2 separate regions of the Homo sapiens genome follow, and region 1 is linked to region 2. The links come from fine-mapping of genetic effects on gene expression. A gene starts in region 2. The other region holds a variant in brackets. All regions are shown on one strand. Distances are between the middles of the regions. Region 1 overlaps SLC6A4 (solute carrier family 6 member 4). Region 2 holds the start of ABHD15 (abhydrolase domain containing 15).

What was found. PIP is the estimated chance that this variant, and not a neighbour inherited with it, causes the effect.
Region 1: its variant is the best candidate, but not a certain one, in a credible set for the expression of ABHD15 in whole blood (INTERVAL, PIP 0.51).

Annotation. Positions count from the first base shown.
Region 1 is chr17:30,222,468-30,226,965 of GRCh38, forward strand. It overlaps SLC6A4 (solute carrier family 6 member 4), which reads right to left. Exons shown (of 15, transcript NM_001045.6): 2 at 352-448. Among named protein-coding and RNA genes, the nearest start is that of SLC6A4, 11 kb to the right of the region's middle. RefSeq lists an enhancer at 1-491 and a silencer at 3,430-3,630. The variant C/T (reference allele first, on the strand shown) is at 2,373.
Region 2 is chr17:29,565,349-29,569,595 of GRCh38, forward strand. ABHD15 (abhydrolase domain containing 15) reads right to left here and starts at 1,689. Exons shown (of 2, transcript NM_198147.3): 1 at 738-1,689. The coding sequence starts at 1,618. TP53I13 (tumor protein p53 inducible protein 13) reads left to right here and starts at 3,353. Exons shown (of 7, transcript NM_138349.4): 1 at 3,353-3,482; 2 at 3,670-3,738; 3 at 3,970-4,011. The coding sequence starts at 3,411. RefSeq lists enhancers at 630-739, 2,760-2,809, 3,893-4,247 and silencers at 1,260-1,879, 1,970-2,229, 3,230-3,589.

The sequences.
Region 1 (4,498 bases), 660 kb after region 2:
GTCTTGGATGCTATGTTGGGGAAACAATGACAAGCAAAGGCGTTTCTGCCTTTCAGCAGGCAGGACAGTCCTCACCATCATTTAAGCTGCACACCCAAAGTTATATTTTATATCAACTACAGCTATGATTTTAAAAGGAAAAAAGCAAAGGACAGAGGTAAAAAGGCCACCCTTCGTGAGGCACCCCAGCTCATCAGCTACAGATTCTGTCACTCGTCTTTTAGCCCCTAGGAAGGTTGGGGCAGATTTGAGCTGCCTCCGGCTGTGTCCAGTCTATCTGCACATGGCCTTTCTGCGTTCCCATTATGCATTTGCAAGCCCGACTGGTCCTTAAACGGCACTGCTGCTCACCATTTGTTCTTCTTTCCACTTGCCAGCAACTCCTGTGGCTAAGCCCCTTGTTATTCTGCAAGAGAGGGCAAGCAAGGTCGCCTTGCCTCCAGGAGACCTAGGGAGAAGAGTGTGCAGGTTACTGATGCTGGGGTGGTTGGTGTCGCCGTCCCCCTGTGCCTCCACTGGGAGGGCCTGGCCGGGGCTGCTGTGCCTTCATTTCACCGCCGTGGCCTGGGCGCAGGGAAGTCAGCTCAGCTCTGGCTTGAGGTCTGAGTCGTCAAACGTGGGGTAGAAATTTGAGCCCTTTTGGACTTTAAACCTATGGCCTGTTATAAAGTTGTAAGCAGCAGTTGTAAGACTGTTCAACTGCTCACTCTGTTTCTTCTGGGCCTGAGCTTTTCAAACTCTTGAAACAGTTTGGGAGTTGAAATACGTTTCTGCCTAGCTGAGATGACACTGGACCCTTCTAGAAAAGATAGCCAGGGATGGACTGTTTATAACTGCAATGATCTGAGGCTAACCCTCCAGATCCAACAGTTAGGAGGATGGCTAGGAACTGGCTAATAGAAATGGCGCATGGATGTCTCCTACCTATTTGGGGTTTTTGGTGACTGCAACTTAGCTACCTACACATGTGAAGACAAAAACATAGTAAGTGAAAAATCAGGACACAAAATAGTAGCTTCACAAGAATGACTATGGCTATAAACATGAGCAAGGATTAGACATGAACACCAGGCAATGTCAGTCACTAGGGTTTGGCGTTTGCTGCATTTTTTCTGTAAAGTGGAAAATAAAAATTTTAAAGGGATCGATTGTTGCCAAAAATATCTACAGCAACAAGAGATAAATCAGCTTCATGTAGCTAGGGGCTGTGTGTGTGTAAGGGGAGGTAGACGTCTTGGGCTGTACCGCACTTGTTGGGCCCTCCGCCACCCACCCCAGGCTCAAGAATGCAAACACCACTCAGAAGGATATGAATTCTGACAAGAGCGGTCTCCATAACCTCACCCTGCTCACCATTTATGCTACTGCCTGGCCTTGGCCTCCCCCCACTTCCCCCTTCCTTCGGCCCTCAACTAGGCTTGATAGGCTTTTAAAATAACCACACATCCTCTCACCCACCATAGGTAACCATTTACCAGGCCAAGGGATATTATTATTTTATTACATGATGAGATGTCAACATATTTAAATATTCAGCTAAATTAAACCTGAACTTGGTAGTCAGTGGTTGTGTTGTTTAAAAAGGCCTCTGTACTTCCCTCCGGCCTATATCAATGACATGTTTTGTACGTTAAACAACTGACGAACTTGAAGGCCAAATGGCAGGGAGGAAGAGCTTTTCCCTGTGCGGCTGGAGGGCACCGAGTTGACAGAGCTGCTCCTTCCCTTGCTCTTCCTCCCACTGGCCCCACAGTTTTGTTTTTTTTTTTTTGAAACAGTCTTGCTCTGTTGCCCAGGCTGGTGTGCAGTGGCACAATTTTGGCTCACTGCAACCTCTGCCTCCCGGGTTCAAGCGATTCTTGTGCCTCAGCCTCCGAGTAGCTGGGACTACAGGCGTGCTCCACCATGCCCGGCTAATTTTTATATTTTTAGTAGAGATGGGGTTTCACTATGTTGGCCAGGATGGTCTTGAACTCCTGACCTCACATGATCCACCCGCCTTGGCCTCCCAAAGAGCTGAGATCACAGGTGTGAGACACCATGCCTGGCCTGGCCCCACAATTTTCTGCAAGAACCTCTTCTATTTTCTGTACTGCCACTTTCCTCTCACTTAAATAGAAGCTCCAATTGCATCACCCAAGCGTTCCCTGGCCTCTCTACCCAGGCCCAGAGGGTCTACGGAAGGGAAATGCGGTCCATCTCAGAAGCAATACTTTGGGGAGAGGAAATAGACATTTAGCAGCAGCAGTGAGCAGTTACCCTCCTGCCTCAGGGGCCAAATGATTTGTTCTGGATTTTGTTTACTTTCTTCCTTGAGGCGTCCTGCAGAGAGGGTAGAAAATGTGTGCAGGTAGGTAGATTTTTGAGGGCAA[C/T]GTGTGTTCTCAGGAGTCCTCAGGGGTTCAGCCCCGAAGGCATCCAGTCCTGAATTCCTGGCAACTATGGTAAGCAGCTCCTGGAAGAGTAATACGCTGTTTCTATTTGTGTTCTGAGCCATTACAGAGGTCTTGTTTCCTGAAATATCCCCTAGTTCTTCTTAATTTTTTAATTAAAAAATTTTACATCAACAGGCTGAAATGGCCCCAGTGCAAGAAAACCCAGAGCATCCCTCAGACAACTCATGACCGGGCAGCCTCTCCCCACAGGCTGTCTCTCTCTATCCAGCTGTGCTTTCTGGGGTTCTCCTACTGAACCCCCACCCTCATCATAGAATCTGGGGTGCAAACACAAAGTTACAGCCACTCAGAGGAGACACACATCTCCTTTTCTTAACTTACTCCTCTGCCTCTGCCAGGTAGAGGAAAACTCCTCTCGGTGACTAATCGGGTCTGCCAGGAGAAGATGCCATGTGCCCGGGGCCCTTTCTGCCTGCAAGCTCCTGCCTGTGGAGCCCCAGACTCTCTTCCTATTTTTTCTGATTCTGCAGAGCCCTGGCTGGCTTTTTCTATCAAGACTTGCACATAACAATGGCTGAAAACAAGCTGGCCCAGGAATAGAGAAGTGTGAGTTGTTAAGAAGGTTGGTTTCTGAGAATGCCCTCTTCTAAGCTTTCTTTTTTTAAAAGGTATTTTTATCCTGCTGGGTGGAAAGATTGCAAACGAGGTCAATATTACAGCTGTGACCTTCTCCAGGCAGTCTTTGAGTTTCTCCATGTCCAGAAAAAGCCCCAGAAGGAAGCCTTCCTTTGCATCTTGGATGTGTGCTGTTGTTCCAGGCTGAGCTGGTGACAGGCTGAGGGTGGTGCCGTGGACCCCACCTCTGCTGTGGAATGACAGCTGGCAGACAGAAGCTTCGTCCCCCTAGGTCTCTGCACATGAGGGGTGCAGTTGACCAGCCAATGGGAGTGGTTGACTTTCTCTTAACTCTCCTGAAGCTAATGCACTCCATTCCCCCAATCCCTGACTCCAAGTAAAAAAGGACTGTTTCTATTTAAACTTCTGATCGAATCTCCATTCCTCTTTCCACACACTTTGTCTCTATAGCCAGGAGCAACCCGTACCTGAACAAGCATGTAATTATCCCGATTGGTCATAAACACCCAGCCCTTTGGAAATGCCTGTGACGCTCCATCTACTTGATGCCTATCAGTGCCTTCTAAGCAGAAAGACACTACAGAAATGTTGAACTTTGACTTCATGTGTCAAGATCAAAGTGAGTTCATTTCTCAGGAAACTCAACTTTCTTTCTCAAAACAAACAAAAACAAATGAACTGTGGGTTTAACGTTGAGATAGGATTAGTTACAGGTCATAGAGCCAACTGGCAGTTCGTATCCTCTATTCAGAGGGAGGCTGAAGTTCCCAGGGCATCTCCCAAGAGTGATGGGAATTATGGAACGCTGGTGCCGCCCGAAGCAGTAAACATGGAATCTGGCCTTCTTCATGGAGAAGCACTCCCTCAGCAAAGATGTGCGTAGGCCCACATGTGCTCGGCTCCTCAGAAACAAGGCAGGCAAGCCGGGCCAGCTGGCTCACGCCTGTAATCCCAGCACTTTGGGAAGCCAAGGCGGGCGGATCACCTGAGGTCAGGAGTTTGAGACCAGCGTGGCCAGCATGGTGAAATCCTGTCTCTACTAAAAATACAAAAAGTAGCTGGGTGTGGTGGCGGGTGCCTGTAATCTCAGCTACTTGTGAGGCTGAGGCAGGAGAATTGCCTGAACCCAGGAAGCGGAGGTTGCAGTGAGCTGAGATTGAGCCACTACACTTCAGCCTGAGTGACAAGAGTGAAACTCTGTCTCAAATAAATAAATAAAAATAAAAATACAAAAAATGAGCCGGGCGTGGTGGTGCATGTCTGTAATCCCAGCTACTCAGAAGACTGATGCATGAGAATCGCCTGAACCTGGGAGGCAGAGGTTACAGTCAGCCAAACTGCGCTCCAGCCTGGGCGATAGAGTGAGACTCTGTCTCAAAAAAAAAAGAAAAAGAAAGAAAAAAGAAACAAGGCAGGCACAGTCCTGCCTGCATGGAGTCCACAGGCCAAGCCTAAAATCTGAAAAAGAA
Region 2 (4,247 bases):
ACAGGGTGTTGCTCTGTCACCCAGGCTAGAGTGCAGTGGCCTGACCAGGGCTCTCTGCAGCCTCGAACTTCTGGGCTTCGGTGATCCTCCCATCTCAACCTCCTGAGTAGCTGGGACCACAGATGCATGCCACCACACCCGGCTAATTAAAAAAAGAAATTTTTGTAGAGACAGGTTTTCCTATGTTGCCCAAGTTAGTCTCAAACTCTTGGGCTCAAGTGATCCTCCTGCCTTGGCCTCCCAAAGTGCTGGGATTACAGGCGGGAGCCACTGCACCTGGCCTCAAATGCCACCATATTTCTGATTCCTGTCACCTCCAGGCTCAGAGACTGTGAGTAAACATTCTGGGCAGATAATCGTTTGCAATTGCTTCCAGAGTGCTCTTTGCTGAGCTGTTAAGCTGTGGGCTAAGTGGTAAATGTCAGGTATCTCTGCTGTCGTGGGCCAGGTGCTCAGATTGCTAGGATACAGCAGGGGGTGCCGAGATGAGGCAAGGGGCCGGGTTAGGAGTCCCTGCTCTAGCACAGCGATACTAGCTGAGTCCATCGATGACCTTTAAACCCGCTTCCCCGGTTCTGTCTAGATTACAGGGTTTGGAAGGCTTTGGAAGATGTGTTCAGAGAACTTTGCCCAAACTGGCCCACGCCTGTTCCAATGCTATGCATAGCTGTTTCTGATTCTTAGCCAGCTCAGGCCCTCTATTCTTTCCATGCTGGTCTGCGGCCTCCGTTACCCACCTGCTGAGGGCGATCTTCTGGTGGAGCAGAAAGCCCCGCTCGTAGGGCCAGGGCAGGCCGGCCTCGAACCACTCTCGGCAGCGCAGCACGGGCGAGATGCAGGCGGCGCCTGTCACGTAGCTGGAGGAGCCGCACTCGCCCAGGTAGGACAGGAGCAGCGCCGAGCCCGAGCCTTCGCTCACCGCGAACAGCGGCGCCGCCGGGTGTCGGAAGCGGATGTATGTGACCGCCTCCTTGAGGTCGGACGGGTCCCCGAAAGGCTGCAGCCGGGGGCTGACCAGTGGGCAACCGTGGTGGCCGCGGCGATGGAAGATGACCGGGTAGTAGCCGCGCTCCAGGGCGAGCAAGCAAAGGCCGAGCACGTTGCGGGTGAGGCGACCCCACGCATTGGGGATCACCAGAAGCACCGCAGGAAGGCCCCCGGCGCTGGTGATCCGGCGGCCCCGAACACAAGGTCCTACCACCCAGTCCAGGGCCACTAGCCCATCGTCCGCCAACTGCAGGTACTCCCGGGCCAGCTCAGGCCCAGGCGCTACGGGCAGGACGAAGTGGCAGAGGGTCTGCAGGTGGGGCCCGGAGAACCAGGAGCGCGGGCCGGCCTCCAGCGCCTCTGAGCGCCGCAGGGCGCGCAGCAGGCACTGGGCCAGGGCCGACGGCTTGCAAACAAGGCTGCACCCTCCCGGCAGTGGCTCGCGCCCGTCGCTGAACTGGTCCGCCGGGCCTCCGCCGTCCGCCTCCTCCCCGTCGTCTCGGTCTTGGGCCCCCGGCAGGGTCCTCTCTCCGACGGCGCGCCCCCAGGGTCCCCGGAGCCGCGGGCCGAGCAGGCCGAGAAGGGCGAGCACGGCCAAGATGAGCGCGAGGGCGGCGCCCCACGGCGGCATGGCGAAGCTGGAGAGCCCCGGCGGGCAGCGGGCGGCGGGGCCGTCTACTCGGCGAGCTCCGCGCTTTGCCCGCGGCTCCGCCCGCCGGCGGCGGCTGCCCAGGGCCCTCCCGCGCGGGCGCGCTCTGGATTGGCCGTGGCCGGGCAGAGGCAGCCAGTTCGGGCCCGGCTGCCCTCGCCCGCCCCCCACCCCCGCCCCGGCCCTTTGTACAGCAATTGCAACAAGTGGGAGCAGAGGGTGAGAGGAGCCGGGGCCACCAGGGAGGGAGGGCGCGCCGGCAGCCGGAAGGGAGTGGGGAGGGCACGAGCCGGGGAGAGCGGTGTTGGCCATGGAGACGTGGGGAGACTGGAGGCCGAGGCTTGGGGACCCGACTGTCATCAGGGTCTTCCGCCAGACCCTGGGCGCTGCGCCCTCAGAGGCCGATGAAAAGAAGCAGAAGGGAGAGGTGAGTAAGTCGCAGCTCCGGGCGCCGGCTCCCGGGACCCCGTGGGGCGGCGGCCGCGCGCGCGCTCTGCCCTCGGGCGGCCCTGCTCTCCCCCGCCCGGCCCCGCAACCCCGCAATAACTTGGCTGGGCGGGGTCCGGCACTGGGCTAGAGAGGTCGAGCGCGGCGTCTTGAGCCGCTGGCGGGAGGCTGCTGCTTCCCCGCCTGCATCAGTGCGGGTCCCGTGGACTCCTCGCCCCCGTCCCCGCGAGCTCGGGGCTCCACATCAAGGAAATCCTCAGCCCGGGAGTGGCTTCCCCAGAAACAGCAGCCCCAAGCCTCCGAGAGTCAGTCGGAGAAAAGGACACACTCAGGCGCCCTGCGACAGGGATGCCCGTCCGACCTACAAGGAACGCCTCGTAAACCGGGGTGCATGGGAGACCACGGAAATAACACGTTCTCGCTGTTTCCAAGCTTTGGGATAGGCATCTCGACCCTCGCTCTCTACCCACGTTTCCCCCCCAAATCCTGGAGAGGGAACCAGAACCAGCGCCCCGCTGCGGGGCGGGCCGGCCAGCGCACCTCCTGGGGGTGAGGCCTGTGGCGTCCCCATCTCGCGGCGACCAATCTCTTTCTAGACGCGCGCCTGCCACCGCTGGGCGACGGCGGAGGTGGGGAAGACAGCAGCCTCTCGGCTAGCTCCGGCCTCCCGGGGCTTCTGGGTTTGGAGAGTTTGGGGAGCGGAGACACCTCCCGAGGCTCCTCCGCGTTGGACCCTATTTGCGAGGGCGGGAGCGGGGTGGGCCGACGGCGAAGCTCCAGAGGTGGGACCCTCTCCCTTCAGCAGCTCTTCCTGACTTCATGATTCTGCCCCTCTTCTCATTGCAGGTCACACCGACAAATCTGAAGCGGGTTTGCCAGGGGAGTGTACCCGTCTCCCCAGCCTGGGCCACCCGGTCCACAGGGATTCCATTTCCGGCCTTACACTCCGCTCCACGATCTCATCCAGGCGCTGCAGCTGTGCAGCTGCTCTACAGACTGCAGGGACCTGCTGAGACGAATCCCCGGACGAGGAAAGGGGCCCCCCGCCTGCCCTACTGAGCCTTGCGCGCTGACCCGGTTCCTACACTTAACTTTTCCGGCTTCGGGTTTAAGACGCGTGCGCGCACACTCCGCTGCTGTGGGCGGGCATTGGGGCGGGGCGATACCGGGGGCCCACTGTCTGGGGAGGGGCGCGCGCGAGCCCAGGGCCAACGGACGCGCGGGCGGCGCGGGCGGCGCGGGGGCGCTGGGGCTGGAGGGGCGGGGCGCGCGCGCTCCCTCGCTGGCGGAGCGGCTGGGCGGCGGGCCGGGCCCGGGGCCGCTTGGAATGGCGCCTCCTCCGCCTTCGCCCCAACTGCTTCTCCTGGCAGCCCTCGCGAGGCTCCTGGGTCCCAGCGAGGTAAGGTGACCCGCTCCTGGGAAGGCCTCGGCCCGCGAGCTCAAAGCGCTTTGCCAAAAGTTCGTCCTGGAAGGAGTGGCGCGCCGAGGGGGACGCGGAGTTCTTCCGCTGGCGGGCTGGGCCTGGGGAGAGAGAGGGCAGGGCCTCGCCGCGTCCAGCGCCCCAACTCTTCGCTTTGGACCCACAGGTGATGGCTGGACCGGCGGAGGAGGCGGGAGCCCATTGTCCCGAGAGCCTGTGGCCTCTGCCTCCGCAGGTAGGAGCCCTGGAGGGCCCAGGGAGAGAGGGATGTGAAAGGCTAGCCCAGTCCCGCTCTGTTCTCGCCGCACCCTCCACAGTCACCATCTGAGGACCTCTGCCGGTTCCTCAGTCCTCAGTAGCCAACTTCTCCATCCCAGCCTGGCGCTTGGGGCCTGCCGTCCCCTCCCCACCACACACACACGGAGTCCCCCAACTGCCCTAAGCTCTGTTCTTTCCCCATGTATAGGTGTCACCAAGAGTGACCTACACACGAGTGAGCCCAGGGCAGGTGAGTACAAGCAGGGGCCCACCACCCTTGGTGTCCACGCCTGGAGACAGGCGCTCCTAGCAGGCTTCGCTGCCTGTTCTGCTGATCGGCCCCATTCCTTACCACTTCCCTCAGGCAGAGGCAGGGTTCTAGTTCTCTGCCCCACCTCCAAGCCCAGGACAGATCAGCCCCAGGACAGATGGCTCAAAGACAGTGAGCCATAGGCCTGTCATCTGCAATGCTGTGTCAGGATGCTG